Regions from separate parts of the Homo sapiens genome. Here region 1 is linked to region 2. The links come from fine-mapping of genetic effects on gene expression. A gene starts in region 2. The other region holds a variant in brackets. All regions are shown on one strand. Distances are between the middles of the regions. Region 1 overlaps LOC124902866 (a long non-coding RNA gene). Region 2 holds the start of SCNN1A (sodium channel epithelial 1 subunit alpha).

What was found.
Region 1: its variant is fine-mapped to the expression of SCNN1A in pancreas (GTEx, PIP above 0.99).

The regions. Positions count from the first base shown.
Region 1 is chr12:6,142,363-6,152,718 of GRCh38, forward strand. LOC124902866 (a long non-coding RNA gene) reads right to left here. Exons shown (of 2, transcript XR_007063189.1): 2 at 7,390-7,723. Among named protein-coding and RNA genes, the nearest start is that of VWF, 23 kb to the left of the region's middle. RefSeq lists an enhancer at 1-542. The variant C/T (reference allele first, on the strand shown) is at 5,954.
Region 2 is chr12:6,371,517-6,379,516 of GRCh38, forward strand. SCNN1A (sodium channel epithelial 1 subunit alpha) reads right to left here and starts at 4,047. Exons shown (of 13, transcript NM_001038.6): 1 at 3,989-4,047; 2 at 2,852-3,321. The coding sequence starts at 3,267. It overlaps LOC105369626 (a long non-coding RNA gene), which reads left to right. Exons shown (of 4, transcript XR_931591.3): 4 at 1,639-2,059. It also overlaps a transcript of LTBR not described here. RefSeq lists enhancers at 2,454-3,058, 4,875-5,479.

The DNA of each region.
Region 1 (10,356 bases), 230 kb before region 2:
TGGGTCCCCCAGCAGTGCTGGCCCACCGGCGCTGCGCTCGATTTCTCGCCGGGCCTTAGCTGCCTTCCCGCGGGGCAGGGCTCGGGACCTGCAGCCTGCCATGCCTGAGCCTCCCACCCACTCCATGGGCTCCCGTGTGGCCCAAGCCTCCCCGACGAGCACCACCCCCTGCTCCACGGCGCCCAGTCCCATCGACCACCCAAGAGCTGAGGAATGAGAGCGCACAGCGCGGGACTGGCAGGCAGCTCCACCTGCAGCCCCAGGTGCGGGATCCACTAGGTGAAGCCAGCTGGGCTCCTGAGTCTGGTGGGGACGTGGAGAGTTTTTATATCTAGCTCAGGGATTGTAAACACACCAATCAGCACCCTGTGTCTAGCTCAAGATTTGTGAGTGCACCAATCGACACTCTGTATCTAGCTGCTCTGCTGGGGCCTTGGACAACCTCTGTGTGGAAACTCTGTATCTAACTAATCTGATGGGGACGTGGAGAACCTTTGTATCTAGCTCAAGGATTGTAAACGCACCAATCAGCGCCCTGTTAAAACAGGCCACTCGGCTCTACCAATCAGCAGCATGTGGGTGGGGCCAGATAAGAGAATAAAAGCAGGCTGCCGGAGCCAGCATTGGCAACCCGCTCCGGTCCCCTTCCACAGTGTGAAGGCTTCGTTCTTTTGCTCTTTGCAATAAATCTTGCTATTGCTCACTCTGGGTGCACACTGCTTTTAAGATCTGTAACTCTCACCGTGAAGATCTGCAGCTTCACTCCTGAGGCCAGCAAAACCACGAGCCCACCGGGAGGAACGAACAACTCCAGATGCACTGCCTTAAGAGTGGTAACGCCCACCGCAAAGGTCTGCAGCTTCAATCCTGAGCCAGGGAGATCATGAACCCACCAGAAGGAAGAAACTCTGAACACATCTGAAAGTCAGAAGACACAGACTCCAGATGTGCCACTTTAAGAGCTGTTAACTACGAGGGTCTGTGGCTTCATTCTTGAAGTCAGTGAGACCAAGAACCCACCAATTCCAGACGCAGTATGGGTTATTCAGAAATTTCTAGAAAAATGGTGGTAACTTTCACGTGGTTGCCATGAAAAGAGGTGGTAACTTCTGTGTGTTGCCATGGCAATGGTAAACTGACATGGAATTGGTTGTCAGGTCTTTCCCCCCCCCCCCCCCCCCCAGCTGGAGTCTTGCTCTGTCTCATAGGCTAGAGTGCAATGGTGCAATCTCAGCTCACTGCAACATCTGTCTCCCAGGTTCAAGTGATTCTCTGGCCTCGGCCTCCTGAGTAGCTGGGATTACAGGTGCCCACCACCACGCCCTACTAATTTTTGTATTTTTAGTAGAGATGGGGTTTCACCATGTTGGCCAGGCTGGTCTCAAACTCTTGACCTCAAGTGGTCCGCCCACCTCTACCTCCCAAAGTGCTACGATTACAGGCGGGAGCCACCATGCCCAGCCAACTGGTGGGCATGTCATGGAGAGGTGTTTTCCCCGCCTCTTCCCTGTTTCAGCCAATCTTCAATCTGGTCCAGAGTAAGATCCTGCCTCCTACCTCAGCACCACTGCATTCCAGCCTGGACAACAGAGTAAGACCCTGTCTCAAAAAGCAAACAAACGGGCTGGCCCGGTGGCTCACACCTGTAATCCCAGCACTTTGGCAGGCCGAGGTGGGCGGATCACTTGAGGTCAGGAGTTCGAGACAAGCCTGGCCAACATGGTAAAACCCCATCTCTACTAAAAATACAAAAAAAAAAAAATTAGCTAGGCATTTTGGCGTGCACCTGTAATCCCAGCTACTTGGGAGGCTGAGGAAGGAGAACTGCTTGAACCTGGGAGGCGGAGGTTGCAGTGAGCCAAGATAGTGCCACTACACTCCAGAACGGGTGACTGAGTGAGACTCTGTCTCAAACAAAAACAAAAAACAATGGTTAAACCCTATTATTGCATTTTTGGGCATTTATGCCAGAGAAATCTAAATAGTTTCATGTTAAATATTGTACGTGAATGTTCACAGAAGGTTTTTTTTTTTTTTTTTGAGAGAGAATCTCGCTCTGTCACCCAGGCTGGAGTGCAGTGGCGCGATCTCGGTTCATGCCATTCTCCTGCCTCAGCCTCCTGCGTAGCTGGGACTACAGGCACCCGCCACCACCATGCCCGGCTAATTTTTTGTATTTTTAGTAGACACGGGTTTTCACCGTGTTAGCCAGGATGGTCTCGATCTCCTAGCCTCGTGATCCGCCCGCCTCGGCCTCTCAAAGTGTTGGGATTACAGGCGTGAGCCACCGCGCCCGGCCAAATGTTCACAGAAGCTTTATTTGCAATGACAAAAACTGGAAGAGGCTGGGCGCGGTGGCTCATGCTTGTAATCCCAGCACTTTGGGAGGCCGAGGCGGGCGGGTCACGAGGTCAGGAAATCCAGACCATTCTGGCTAACACGGTGAAACCCCGTCTCTACTAAAACTATAAAAAATTAGCTGGGCGTGGTGGCGGGCGCCTGTAGTCCCAGCTACTCGGGAGGCTGAGGCAGGAGAATGGCGTGAACCCGGGAGGCGGAGCTTGCAGTGAGCCGAGATCGCGTCACTGCACTCCAGCCTGGGCGACAGACGGAGACTCCGTCTCAAAAAAAAAAAAAGAGAACAAATTACTGATACACGCAACGTGGATGAATCTCCAGGGAATTATGCTGAGTGAAAAACAGCCAATCCCCAAAGGTTATATCCTGTATAATTTCATTTATATAAATTACAGAAATGGAGAACAGATTAGGGCTAGGGACAGGGGAGAGGCTGAGGGACTATGAGAGGAGTGTGGTTGTGTTTATAATGAAACCGACCCAATCATCCCATAGATAGGTTTTTTTTTTTTTTTTGGATAAGCATCGAAATTGACTTTTCTAGTCTTTGTTTTCTAGTCTTTTTTTTTTTTTTTTTTTCTTTTTTTGAGACGGAGTCTCGCTCTGTCGCCCAGGCTGGAGGGCAGAGGCGCGATCTCAGCTCACTGCAAGCTCCGCCTCCCGGGTTCACGCCATTCTCCTGCCTCAGCCTCCCGAGTAGCTGGGATTACAGGCGCCTGCCACCACGCCCGGGTAATTGTTTGTATTTTTAGTAGAGATGGGGTTTCACCGTCTTTGCCAGGGTGGTCTCGATCCCTGACCTCGTGATCCTCCTGCCTCGGCCTCCCAAAGTGCTGGGATTACAGGCGTGAGCCACCGCGCCCGGCCTTTTTTCTAGTCTTAAAGCCACCACGCCCGGCCTTTTTTCTAGTCTTAAAGCTTGAAAAACTTAATTTGTTTTATCTGAGTTCCCTCCTCAGGAAAAGACCTTCAGGCCTCTAAAAAAAAGTATCAAAGAACTGAAACTCACCAGATCACCACATCCAGACAAGGAAATGCCCAGACCCCTCATTCATCATGATTGTTTCCTTGCCCCTCCCTAGTTCCTGTTTTCGTAGGCATTGTTACATTTCTTCCCTGCTACATAAACCCTTACTTTTTGTAGGTCAGGGAGATGGGTTTGAGACTGGGCTCCCATCTCCACTCCTCAGCTGCAGGATTAAAGATTTTTTTCTGGCCAGGTGCAGCGGCTCATGCCTCTAATCCCAACACTTTGGGAGGCTGAGGCAGGCAGATCACCTGAGGTCAGGAGTTCGAGACCAGCCTGACCATCATGGAGAAACCTCGTCTCTACTAAAAATACAAAATTAGCCGGGCATGGTGGAGATGCCTATAATCCCAGCTACTCAGGAGGCTGAGGCAGGAGAATTGCTGGAACCCGGGAGGCAGAAGTTGCGGTGAAGCGAGGTCACGCCACCGCACTCCAGCCTGGGCAACAGAAAGAGACTCACTCTCAAATAAATACATACAGACAGACAGACACCAGCATGACATTACATAGTGTAGCACAGCTTTGCCTAAAGGGAGGGGAAAAAAGGTGCAAACACCAGGCTAATTCAGAGAGGAGACTTCTCTTGCTGGGTGTCTCATTCCCAGCACCCTCATCCAGAAACCTAAATTCAGAATCCCTGCTACCTAGATTTCCCGGACCTACTCTACAACCGCTAGTATTTATTTGGTATCTGGGCTAGGCTCTTGGGATATGAAGGTGAGTGAAAAAACACACCATTCTCTGCCCTCATGGAGCTTATGATCTGTTGACAGGACCGACATTAATCCAAACAAATTATAACTACAAACAGTGATGAGAGTAAGACACGTGGTGCCAGGGAGGCATACAAGTAATAGATTCCCACCCAAACTGAGAGGGCCGGGGGGTGTGGGCAGAGAAGTCCTCCCTGAAGAGGTACAACTGAACTGAGTTCTATGGGATGAGTAGGAGTAAAGCCAGGCAAAGGTTGGTGGGCACACTTCAGGCCATGGGAATAGCACGTGCAAAGGCCCAGCTGCAGGAGGAGGCTACCTACCAAGACACTGAAAGACAGTCTGTGGCTGCAACACAGATCAGGGGAAGCATGGTGGACGACAGGGCTGGAGAGGTAGGAAGGGGTCAGATGAAACGTTACTCCTTTCTGCGATGCATTTTGGTTTTCAGGGCAATTTCCCAGACCAGACTTCATTAGAGCCTTACGCTACCACCATGAGTTAGCAAGAGCAGGCAGTATTGTTCCCAATTTGCACATGAAGAAGTGAATGCTCAGCAAAGTTGTCAGAGGCATTCGAACCAGAATGACTCCATTTTGAGTGAGGACTAGGAAAATGAGGCTGAGACTTGCTGGGCTGCATTCTCAGAAAGTTAGGCATTATTAGCCTCTGCATGTTTACAGTTAAGGGAACAAATTAATCGTGTTTACTGAACAGGCCCAGACTTGGGAGTGTCCAGATAACCTGGTACAAAGGTATTCCTTTTTTTTTTTTTTTTTTGAGACGGAGTCTTACTCTGTTGACCAGGCAGGAGTGCAGTGGCACGATGTCGGCTCACTGCAAACTCTGCCTCCCAGATTCAAGCAATTCCCTGCCCCAGCCTTCCAAGTAGCTGGGATTACAGGCGCCCACCACCACACCCGGCTAATTTTTGTATTTTTAGTAGAGACAGGGTTTCGCCATGTTGGCCAGGCTGGTATTGAACTCCTGACCTCATGATCCACCCACCTCAACCTCCTAAAGTGCTGGGATTACAGGCGTGAGCCACTGTGCCCAGCTGAACAAAGGTATTCCTAATTTTGCTTTAAAGATAATAATATCAATTCCTGCAAAATATAGTAATTAAGAAAATTAATCCTTTATCACAAACCTTGTAGCAGAGCACATCTCCCCATATATACAAGCATTGTACGTAGGTTGGATGCGTTCCTCCTCTTACTTTCGGGAACGTCCTACTGTGTCTATGGAGTGGATGTTCTTTCACCACTTTACTTCCTTAATAAACTTGCTTTGCCTTTGCACTGCGGACTCACCCTGAATTCTTCCTTGCTCGAGATCCAAGAACCCTCTCTTGGGGTCTGGATCGGGACCCCCTTTCCTGTAACATATTTCTGGCGAACACAGAAGGCACTATAGTACAGAAACCCTGACCCAACGGCTACCTTTGGGTAAATGGTGGAGTCCTGTAACAAAGTGACTTGCCAGAGGCCACGCAGCGAGGGAGTCAAACAGCCTATGCTTACTCCTTGCCCTCCAACTCCTGGCCCAGTGCTCTCTGCTCCCACTGCCTATTCCTGATCCTGTTCAGTCTTCCTTATGGTTCAGCTCCCAAATCCCAAAGTGAAGGCATCAGGTCTCACAGTTGGAAAGGACTTTAGGGAAGGACACCTCTTCTAGGATTCTCCCAATTTGCATCTTGCAAAACTGAAGGACCCCAGGGTCTCTGGCTGAGCTCTTCCTGATTTACTCTAAGATACAAGCAAAATCCTTTTAGTTCAGACTTGATTGGTGGGGAAAGGCCTTGGGATGATGTGAGCTGGACCAAGCAATCCCTGCCTATAATTTCATTAGT[C/T]CACAGTTCCAGGCTTCTACTTTGAGACACAGAAAATTTCTCTTGTGAACCAGGCCACATCCTCTCACAGGAGGCTTTTACTCACACATTCACACGCCGTGAGAACTTTCTCCTTGTCTCTGTGCCTTCCTGAAACATAAGTATCATTAACTATTTAAAATGGACTTTCATACTACAGATGGTGAGTTGATTTAAGGAAAATACACTTATCTTATTCCTCTTCCTCAAATACTACAGGACAAAGTTTTCTGTTGTTCTAAATTTTTGGCTTCTCTCTGTGAAACTGAATTACCTGCTATAATTTGCACAGAAAATGTAATGCATCCCCCACTGTGGGCCTTGAGCAAGCTGCCACCTTCAAGCACCTTCAAGCCATTCACCAAGGATGGAACCTCTTGCTCAAAGAAGAAAGCCAAAGTGTTTAAGATACTGACCTGTAGCAAGCAAACAGTGAGACATAATCACACTCTTGACTTGAACTAATAGCGTATATATTTTATCACAAATCTTGGAAATGACAGAAGTCTTGGGCTGGGCGCAGTGGCTCATGCCTGTAATCCCAGCACGTGGGGAGGCCGAGGCGCGCGATCACCTGAGGTCAGAAGTTTGAGACCAGCCCGGCCAACATGGTGAAACCCTGTCTCTACTAAAAATACGAAAATTAGCTGGGCGTGGTGGCTGGCGTCTGTAATCCCAGCTACTCAGGAGGCTGAGGCAGAAGAACTGCTTGAACCCAGGAGGCGGAGGTTGCAGTGAGTGGAGATTGCGCCATTGCACTCTAGCCTGCGCGGCAGAGCAAGACTCCATCTCAAAAAAGAAAAAAGAAAAAAAAAAGTCTCAGATAGAGTCCTGGAGGTCTGAGGCTCTATCTGCTTCCTCCTCCATCTTGAGAAAGTGACTGACCCTCTCTGGCACTCTTTTACCCAAAGTAGCCAGGGTGTGTGTGGTTTGTAATTTTTTTTTTTTTTTTTTTTTTTTTGAGACGGAGTCTCACACTGTCGCCCAGGCTGGAGTGTAGTGGCGAGATCTCGGCTCACTGCAAGCTCCGCCTTCTGGGTTCCTGCCATTCTCCTGCCTCAGCCTCCCAAGTAGCTACGACTACAGGCGCCCGCCACCATGCCCGGCTAATTTTTTGTATTTTGTTTAGGGGAGACGGGGTTTCACCGTGTTAGCCAGGATGGTCTAGATCTCCTGACCTCGTGATCCGCCCACTTCGGCCTCCCAAAGTGCTGGGATTACAGGCGTGAGCCACCGCATCCAGTCGTGTGTGTGTAATTCTTATCTGTGTTTTTAAATGTGGATTTCCAGCTTCACTTGGAAGACTGGAAGTTGTTGGAAAGGCGGGTCTTCTCTCTTGGGATGGGCATGTTCTCTCCAGTTTCCAGTCCCTTCTACACCCTATCACATCTCCAACATGAGGTCCAAACCAGTTGTCATTTATCTTTTTACTTACTTCGTCTTTTTATTGAAGTACAAAAACATTTCTTTGTAGCACTTCTCTATCAAGAGGGGAAAAAAATAAGACACACCAAGACAGCTGTAAGTTTCAAGAAAAATAAGAGGCCGGATTCTTTGTAGAAGCTGAAGAATATTCCTCTGCAATTGGTTGGCTTCCTCAGTGGTTCGGCTTCAGGATCCCGCAGAGGTTGGCTAAGGCCCAGTCAGCCAAAGGCGCCAGCACGACTGGGACTGGAAGATCCACTTCCAAGACGGCTCATGCACGGTGCTGCCCAGCTGGTGCTGTAGCTGGCAGGAGGCCTGGATTCCCTGCTGCACTGGGTGACCAGATTTTCCCAGAGCAAGAGTCCAAGAGAGAGAAAAATGAAAGATACAAGGTTTTTTTATGATCTGGCCTCAGGAGTCTTATTTCCACAATATCCTATTGGTTATACAAGTCAGCCCTACTCAACATCAGACTACACAAGGGTGGGACTGGTGAAATAAGATTCACTGGAGGGCTATCTTGAAAGGTGGATACCACATAATTCCATGACGTTTATAAACGACATACCTAAAATATAAGGACATGAAAGTGTTTGAAGCAAAGCTGGAGTAGTTGTTAGTAATATGGGACAAAATAGACTTTGGGGAAATAAAGCATTATTATGGCTAGAGAATGACATTAAATAATGACAAAAAATACAATCTACTAAGATTATTATAAACCTAGTAAAATAAGAAGATATGATTATAAAACTAAAAAATAAGCTTAATAAAATAGGTTTAAAATATATAAATTATAAAAATTAAAAGAACCCAGGGAGAAGTTGCCATATTTGCCATCATAGTGGGAGATGTCAACACACCTCTCTCCGTTACTGTTAGATCAAAGAGACAAAAAATTAGAAAAGACAGAAAATTTGCACAATACAATTAATCAGCTTGATTTATTGGGCATAGATAGAATTCTCTACCCAGCAATTAGGGATGACACATTTGGAACATATATAAAAACTGACCAGGCCGGGCGCGGTGGCTCACGCCTCTAATCCCAGCACTTTGGGAGGCCAAGGCAGGTGGATCACGAGGTCAGGAGATCGAGACCATCCTGGCTAACGCGGTGAAACCCCGTCTCTACTAAAAATACAAAAAAATTAGCCGGGCATGGTGACAGGCGACTGTAGTCCCAGCTACTCAGAAGGCTGAGGCAGGAGAATGGCATGAACCCAGGAGGTGGAGCTTGCAGTGAGCCGAGATCACGCCACTGCACTCCATCCTGGGCGACAGAGTGAGACTGTCTAAAACAAAACAAAACAAAACAAAAATAAACAAAAAAAAACTGCCTAAGTACTAAACCACAAAGCAATTCTCAACAGATTTCAAAGAATCAGTATCAATGTGTTTCCCTGCATAATACATTTAATTAGAAGCAAATAACAAAATATAATTATGTTTTATTCCCATATGGCTAGAAACTTCTAAATATATTTCCAATTCATGGTCAAAGAAGAAATCATCATGAAAAATGTAAAATTCAGTCTATTCTGCTATAATGCATATAAAATGCAGAATATTATCAGTTTAATATGAAAGTCATATTAGTTCCTATTATGAACTAATACATAGGTGCAAACTTTCTGATAATTGAAGAAACCTTTAAAAACATTTTTTTTTTGAGACGGAGTTTCGCTCTGTCGCCCAGGCTGGAGTGCAGTGGCGTGATCTTGGCTCACTGCAAGCTCCGCCTCCCGGGTTCACACCATTCTCCTGCCTCAGCCTCCCGAGTAGCTGGGACTACAGGCGCTCGCCACCACGCCCGGCTAATTTTTTGTATTTTTAGTAGAGATGGGGTTTCACCGTGTTAGCCAGGATGATCTTGATATCCTGACCTCATGATCCACCCACCTCAGCCTCCTAAAGTGCTGGGATTACAGACGTGAGCCACCACGCCTGGTAAATACATTTTTAAAAGCCAAAAATTTTTCACAGTTGATCTTCTTTCATGCATATAATGGCTGGTGTAGGGCCTTGAGAACTGCTAGACTTCCTACTATGTGAAGGTATCTACAGAAGCTTCAAATATAGGTCAAGAAGCAATGAAGGTATTTCTGTTTTACCCTGATGTATTAAAAAATCAAGAAATCTAGTTACTAGATCATGTTTTTAGTTTTGTTTGTTTGTTTGAGATGGAGTCTCGTCCCGTGGCCCAGGCTGGAGCGATATGGTGCAATCTCAGCTCACTACAATCTCCACCTCCCAGGTTCAAGGAATTCTCCTGCCTCAGCCTCCCAAGTAGCTGGGATTACAGGTGCCCGCCACCATGTCCAGCTAATTTTTTTTCTTTAGTAAAGATGGGGTTTCACCATGTTGGCCATGCTGGTCTCGAACTCCTGACCTCGTGATCTGCCCTCCTCAGCAATCCAAAGTGCTGGGATTACAGGCGTGAGCCACCCCGCCCTGCCTATGTTTTTAGTTTTAATGAAATTAATCACTATTAGAAACAAATGCCCTCAAAGACCTATTTCTCAAAGCTGGAATCGTAAATCTCAGGACTCAAAACTACAAAGAATTGACTGACGATGGTGCTGATGAAGGGATACTGGTCAAAACTTAATCACATGGCCATATCTACCTATGAGGGAGGCTGGGAAATATAATCTTCAGTTTTGTATCCAGCTAAAAACTGGGGTTTTGTTGTTAAAAGTTAGAAGGCCAGAATAACCATTAGAGAACCATCAGTGGACTCTGCCACAAAGAAAATTAGCTTTAATTCAGATGATGTCTCCAATACAATTTTGACTCCAAAACCAGACATGAGCAGTATAAGAAAAAGAAAATCCCTGGCAAAACTTACTCATGAACATAGGTGCAAAAGTCCTAAACAAAATACTCGCAAGTGAATCCAACCGTTTTATTAAAAAAGAGAGTGCGTTATGACCAAGTTTTATTTATTCCAGAAATTT
Region 2 (8,000 bases):
GCGTGGCGGGGGGGCGGGGGGTGGGGGTGAGGGTGGACGGTGGGGGTGGGGGTGGGGCGGGGGGCGGGGGATGATTTTTGAGTCCCAGTTTCACCACTTGTTGTCTGTCTGAAGTTGAGGCAGTTACTTAACTCTCTGGGACTCAGTTTCCTCATCCATAAAATAAGAGTCATCATGAGACCTACTTCCAAGGTGTGTTGTGAGAATTAAATAATTTAAAGCAGAATCATTTGATTTAGATTCATTTGTAAAAAGTCTGGCCCATAAATATATACAAACATTATTATTGTTTTTTTTTCCTTTGAGACTGTGTCTCACTCTGTGGCTCAGGCTGGAATGCAGTGGCGTGATCTCGGCTCACTGCAGCCTCGGCCTCCTGAGGTGATTCTCCTGCCTCAGCCTCCCAAGTAGCTGGGACTACAGGCGTGCGCCACCACACCTGGCTGATTTTTGTATTTTTAGTAGAGACGGGGGTTTCACCATGATGGCCAGGCTGGTCTCGAACTCCTGGCCTCAAGTGAGGGGCTCTTTTAAACAACCTTGTTTGAGCTCCATCCCAGATCCCTCAATGCCTGCCTTGGCCTCCCAAAGTGCTGGGATTACAGGCGTGAGGCACCATGCCCAGCGGTTATTTTTTAATTTAATAAATAAATAATGTATGTTCCCTTGCTCAAATTATTTCCTCTTGCCAAGCCTTAATTTCCTCATCTAAAAAAATGGGAATAATACTGCCCACCTCCCTGGACTTGTCAGTATTAAATGAGAGAGTGTCTATAAAGCACCCAGCTTTAGGGTGTAGCACATAATGTGACTACAAGGTCAAGTGTGTAGTGCTTGGTGGGTGTTGCATCTCCTCCCGCTGTGCTGGGGAGCCCTTCCCCGACTCCTCTCCTCTCCTAGGTGTTCTCTCCCTCCCGACTCCCACAGCAGCCCTTCAAGAAGGAGGGATTCTTTCTGGGCAGATGGCTGCCTCCCAGCCTGCAGGCCCCAGAGGCAGGGCTTATGGCTTCCTTTCCCCGGCTTTTTCCTGGACTGTCTAGGGCCCCGCATCCAGCAGAACCTAAGAACTGTGCAGGCCTCACCCGATTCACCCCTGCCCTCCCTTTCCATCTCTCACTGACATATTTTCAACCACAAATATTTATTGAGTGCCCACTGCCCCGCCTGCTGTCCTTCCCCTTCCTGCTGGGTCCCTCCCCTCCACCAAGGCCTAAAGGGGTGAAGATGTCTGCAGGCAGCAGGGGGAGAAAAATGAGGCTAAGAGGAAGGACCCAAGAGAGCTCTGAAATGAGGCGGAAGCCACATCTGACTGGAAGTTTCATTCACTCAAAGCCCCACATCTTGGGTATTAAAAAGAGGCAGAGTTTTGGGATTAGGCGTAAACAGGATGAGTCACAGCTCAGTCACTCTCTCTGTGATGTTGTGACTTGCCTCTCTTTGCCTTAGTTTCCTCAAGTGTAAAATAGGGATAACAATAGCACCGGGCTTGTAAGATGTGAGAATGAAATGAGATACCCAAGACACCTTCGCAGCGTCTGTGCACACGGCAGCTTCCTAAGGAAATGGTCCCTACCTGGGACATTATACAGACGTTAATCAACGAAATGACCTGGCTTTTTTTTTTCTCTCTCTCTCCAGGACAGGACGTCCCACCCTTTCTTAGTCCGTAACGCACCTTTGGACATGATGGAATATACGAAGGGGCCTCCACCCACAGCATGACCAATCCCCAGCATCCAAAATCGCACACATACCAATATGTGCACACACACACTCACACCCACACCCATAAAGATTTTGCACTCCTTGAAGGTACACTAACTCACCATTTTTATCATACTTATCCCAGTGTGCCACAGTTACTGGCTTATATGCCTGTCTCTGCTATCTTATTTTATCTGTCTCCACAACACAGCAAACTACCTGGCCTTCAATAAAGGGCTTATGAATTATTCATGAATCCATTTTGCCAGGTGCCTAGCCCTGTGTCTGGCTTGAAGCAGGTGTTCCCAAGGTGTGGCATGGCTGAGTGAATACAAATAAAAGGTATACAAAAGCACTCAGCCCTGCCCTCCTCTCTTCTCCACGCTTACCACCTGCTCCGGTTTCCAGACCCAACATTGGCAAAGAGCACCGATGAAACCCAAAAGTTCAGGACACACCCAAGCACGTAAAGGTCAGGCACCTGGGCAGGTCAACAGTGCAGCATTTTAGCCTGGGTCTTTTGGGGGAAGAGCTTCACAAGGAGCTGCTCTCTAGCCTGACCCATTCTCCTTGTTCTGTAAGGCCCCTGCCCCCAGCCTTTGGGCTCACTTGCAGCCCTAACCTCCACGATCCCCCTCTTTGCTTTCTCCATAATAAATTCCCCTTCTAAACAAAGACTGACAGCACCACCTCCACAGCACCTGCACGGTCTCGCCTCCCCTCACCTAGCCTCACCCCTCCATCAGACTCTCCTGCTGAGGTGGACGAGGTCTTATACTTTGCTGGCATCTTGCTCCAGAAAAGGGATGCAGCTGAGCACACCCCTGCCCTTTTGCAAGCACTCCCTCCCACTTGCAGGAGGGAGAAGGGAATGGGAGGGAAGGAGAAGAGAGGGCAGGGGAGGGCAATGCTGCTCCAACAACCACACTCTGGGTGAGCCTGGGGTGCTAGGATGGCTCCACTGGGCAGGGACGCCAGTCCAGTAAGCTGGAGGCTCCTCATTTTGCCAGCAGTGAGCTCTACCTGGGACAGGGGTGTCAGTTCCCACCCTCAGGTCTGAGGCTCTGCCTGCCCAGTGAGCACCTCAGCACCCTGGACCACCCTTCCAGGCGCAGGCACCAGGGAAGGGGCAGAGGGACTAACCGACCTGTAGGGATTGAGGGTGCAGATGGTCACTGCGGGGAAGACGAGCTTGTCCGAGTTGAGGTTGATGTTGAGGCTGACGGGGTAGCTGAAGTACTCTCCGAAAAGCAGGCCGAATTGCCAGTACATCATGCCAAAGGTGCAGAGCCACAGCACTGCCCAGAAGGCCGTCTTCATGCGGTTGTGCTGGGAGCACACCAGGCGGATGGCGCCGTGGATGGTGGTGTTGTTGCAGAAGAACTCGAAGAGCTCTCGGTAGGAGCGGTGGAACTCGATCAGGGCCTCCTCCTCCGCCGTGGGCTGCTGGGGCGCCGCAGGTTCGGGGCCCAGCCCCTGCTCCTCACGCTTGTTCCCCTTCATGAGCCCTGGAGTGGACTGTGGAGGGCTAGAGTCCTGCTCCTCCAGCTTGTTCCCCTCCATGAGACCTGGTATGGGCTGCAGAGGTCTAGGGTCCTGCTCCTCCAGCTTGTTCCCCTTCATGAGCCCCGGAGTGGATTGGGGAGAGCAAGGGTCAGGGTCAAGGCTGAGCTCTGGGCCCTGAGTGCCCTCTCCCATCACCCCTGGAACCCGAGTGAGGCTGCCCCTGGCCATGCCCATGTCCCACCCTGCGCCCACATTCTCCCACTCCTCCCTCCCTCCTCCACCTTTCCTGGAGCCAGCAGACCTGCGGGAGTTGGGGCCAAAAGTGCCGGAGCTGGGCTTCCCTAGAACGGCCTCTCCTCTGCTTCCCTGATAGGGCCACCTTTCGAGTTTTGTCCTAGCACCTCCCTTTCTGTCTCTGCCCCCTTCCTTTGGTCTTCTTCCTCCAGGATCTGTGTCTCAGCTCCTGCCTCTCACTCCCTCTCTATCTGCCTTCTGTTTCTCTTTGGGTCTCTCCTGCTCTCCTCTTTCTGGCCTGCCTCCTCTCTCTAATCCTGCCTCTCTTCCTCTCCCCCCCTTGCCTTGCCCCCTCTCACTCTAGGCCCTCAGCTCCAGCCTCTGGCCCTGACCTCGAGCTGTGTCCTGATTCTGTCTCTGCCCCAGGACTGCAGGGCTCCAGGAGGTCTGGGCTGCCTCCAGCTTCCCACTCCCAGGTTGCGGCTGGACTGGGACTGGTTCCTTTCCAGTTGAATCTGGCAGCCAAACCTCTCCTCCCCCTCACCTGACAGGTGCAGCGGCCTGGCTGGGGAGCCCGCCCGCTGGCCGGCCAGGGATGGAAGCGACAGGAATCTCATTAGCATCTCAATTAAAGGTGAGCAGGGCGGGGGGAGGGGCTGAGGAGGAGTCAGAGCCGGGAGTTTTCCGAAGGAAGGAGGGCTCCCGAGGGCAGGTGAACTGGGAGTACTGGACCTGAGAAGGCGGACTCTGGGCAGGGGCTTTAGACGCAGACAGGCAAGGAGGCTGGGGGACAGGATGGCAGGTGAGGGGCAAAGATCTGAACAAGTAGAAGGATCCTGAGCCCACAGCTAGGAGGGCAACACAAGGAGAAGGGGCCAGCCAGGCTGAGAGGGCCTGGGTGGGGAACCGGGAGGACAGGAGGGCAGAAAGAGGGAGACAATAGAGAGGGACAGCGAAGGACAGAGAGATAGGGATGGAGGAGGGGCACTGAGTGAGTAGAGGCAGGTGGGGGGCAGTGGTGGGGGCAAATAGAAGGAGCCAGCACCAAAGGGAGTCTGTCTCCAGGAAGGAGAGCAAGGGGGGAGTCCCAAGTGTGCTTCCAGGAGCTAGAGGCTCAGCAAGTGGGCAGCCCTCCAAGGGCACCCACAGGTCAGCCTCACCCTCAGGCCCTGCAGAGAAGAGAGAAGAGGTCTCTGCAGGTCTCCTCCCCGCTCACTAAGTGGGAGCAGCGCACTCAGGTGGGATGCGTCTGCCTCCTCCTGGTCCCTCCTCTTTCCTGCTGATTCCTCGCCACCCCCTCCAACCTTGTCCAGACCCGGGAGGGGCCCAGGTGAAGCTGGGGGCTAGGCGGGGCCCTAGGACATTCTGTTCTTTTTTACACTGTTGGCTGCCAGGCCAGGAATGTGTAATCGCCCCTGCTGTGGTCACAGAGTTGCAGGAATGTGGGCAACCAGAGGCAGCGCGAGGGCCACGCAGGACACTGTGGACACAGACCCGGAGCCCAGGAAGAGGCAGGGAAAGCAGGCACTGAAGGTGCAGGGAGGATGTGGCCAGCGCTGGAAAGGAAGAGGGTGGGCATGGCACACGCCTAGACAGGCCCTGGGAGGAGGAGAAATTCGTTGATGGGCTATATTTTCTCCAAAATCTCTTTCCAAACTTAATGCAGCAAAAGGATAAGGAGTGGAGTGCCAAGTGGTGAGCAAGGAGAGAGAGGAGGGTCAGAGAATCAGACCCAAAAAGGGCTGGAGGAGACTCGGGAGAGCCACCCACACAACCCAGGCCCTGCACGCGGCAGGGAAGGCTGCCGCTTCCTCACGGGCCCCACAGGAGGCAGCCCAGAGTGCAGGAATGTGGTCACTGGCTTGTCCTGCCTCCCTCCACAAGCCAGCAGACAAAGGCCCAGCCTGAGCATTGATACACACCGGGGGAGGAGATAGGCCTGCAATACAATAAGATAAGGTTTCTATTTGTACACTTTAAAAGATTGTCTTTAAAACGGACTTCTAACAAAAGTGCAGATCTCAGATTTCTCAGAGATAAGACATAAGAGCCAAGGGCTAGGGGAGCCTAGGGGCTCACTGCAGGAGACTCAGGAAGCCTTCCCAGAGAAGGTGTCATCTCTGCTGAATCTTGACAAGCAAGGAGTTTAGCAGGCAAAGAAGAGAAAAGGCAGTACTCCAGGCTCAGGGTCCAACCTGGTCTGTGGCTTCCTCTCTTGCGGCAGTCTCTTGCGACTTCTTAAAGTGAAAGCCGGTGTCAACCAGGATTCCAAACCAGGTTCCCTTGCTTACCTTGATACTGCTCATGATACCTCCCCTTGGAAGGGACAGCTGGATTTTTCTTCATTGTCCTAATGAAGAAACTGACCCTTCCCAAGGATAAATCAGTTTTCTGAGGTTAGAAAACAAAATAGGAGCAGAGCTATAAACAGAATTCAGAATTCTCCTCCTCCTCTGGGGCTATCTACTTAGCGCTTTTGCCATTTACTTCCTGAGACAGACTCATGGGGGATCGGGGCTCAGGTGCACCTGGATGTGAAAGCCGGGAAGGCCTCCCTCACTCCCACACAGAGCCCGTGGATTCGTCTGCTCTCTGGGTGCTGGGTTATCTCCTTGGCTCTGTGAAAAGGTCTCTGCACTGTCCCCACTGCCCCACATATCCCAGAGACCCCTAGAAACTCCAGTCTCCCTTGAGCCAGGTCCTTACATTGGGCATGGTCCTCCCTGCAATAAGGTGCTCAGCACCCTGGCTGTTTGATCTCAAAGGTTCTGAAAAGCACCTCCCTGCCTTTTCTATTTGCCAGCTCATGCCTGAAATCCAACCACTAGCTTAAGGCAGCATGGCAAATAGTTTTCATATCAAGGGCTCTGTGAGAAGAATTGCAATGCCTGGTCTGGGCTGAGCCAAAGGGTGGTGACCCTGCCACGTCCTGCCGGGTATGGGAGTGGCAATGCGAGCCTAGTGCTGCAGCATTCTAGACCTGGAGCGGGCTAGAACAGGCTTGGTGTTGTGAGGAAAATAGAAATCTGAGACCTGGACTTTGGTCAGAAGTCCATTTTAAAGATGATCTTTTAAAGTGTACAAATAATACACAAATATGTTTTTGTCACAGTACAATTTTTCAGCAATACAGAAGTATATAGAGCTTCCCTTAGTCCCCTTCCTTTCCCTCCCCAAAGGGGAGCCACCATAATTTGTATATCTGTCTATATCTTTTTGTGTGCCTTTATAAACTTACATGTATTTTTAAAAAACAAAATATATAGTTCTTTTTTATGACAGAGACCATGCTATAGGTATGTTTCTACAACTTCCATTTTTGCTTTTATTTTCTTATTTATCTTAGAGACAGGATCATGCACTATCCTCTAGGCTGGAGTACAGCAGCATGATCATGGCTCACTGCAGCCTCCAACTCCTAGGCTCAAGCAGTCCTCCTGCCTCAGCCTCCCAAAGTGCTGGGATTACAAGTGTGAGCCACCATACTCAGCCCCTATTTTTGCTTTTAAACTATGTGACTTTGAGAAAGGCACTTGACCTCTATGGGCCCCGGTGATCTTACCTGAGAAAATGAAAGGGCAAGAAGGGGTGGGTAAGGCAACCCAGATGGACAAAGACTTTTTCCAGCTGACCTTGCATCTAGCCCCCTGCTTCATGCATGAGGGGACTGAGGCCCACAGAAGCAAAGTGACTTGGCCACAGTCACCCAGGAGTTAGGGGTGGGGTCAGACTGAAAACCAGGCCACTCCTTTCCAAGCCCAGTTCTCCTTCTCTGACTTTGAGAGAAGTACAGTTTTGTTCTATAAGAAGTCAAGAGCTTTGTAGACTCTGTCTTGGAAGGACCCCCTGCCTTCCCAGGACTACCCCCAGACTCCCCCAGAGCCCCAGCCCTTCCCGCCAACCCAGGGCTGCCTTCCCCTCCCAACACCAGCTATCCTCTAACCCTGTGGTGTGGCCATAAAATATGCACGGCTGCAGGGAGAGAAGTGAAACCAGAGGGGCTGCCATGGGATGAGGGTTATGAGTGCAAAGGGTCTTCCTGCCTCTTGTTCTCCGCGGACAGGAGATGACGGAAGTAATCACTCCACCCTCCTAGGGAGAGCCTATCTCTGCACTTACCACTGTTTACTATTATTTATTATTATTATTTACTATTATCCTGATGTATGTGTGTTTGTACGTATACATCCGTTTGGGGTCCCTGACTTCCCGCAACACAAGGACAGAGACCAGGCGTATTCATCTTGGTGACCTCAGTGTCTAGCGGTCACTGTTTGCTGACCCAGTCTGCAGAAGACAGCAGAACTGGCGTCTTTCCTAGTTTATCTTTGACAGAGCGGGATATGCTACGAAAAAGCATCTGCAAAACTTCAAACATCCTAACTTCCTCTGACAACCCATTTATTTGTGGTCTATTAATTTATCTAAATTTTCTTCACTTTTCCCTGTTCACTTCTATCCTTTCCAGGATAAGAATCAGTTACTTAGTTAAATGCAACTCTTTATTCTTACTACTTGGAGCTAATTAGCCACTTCACACTGGGGGCTGCCCACTG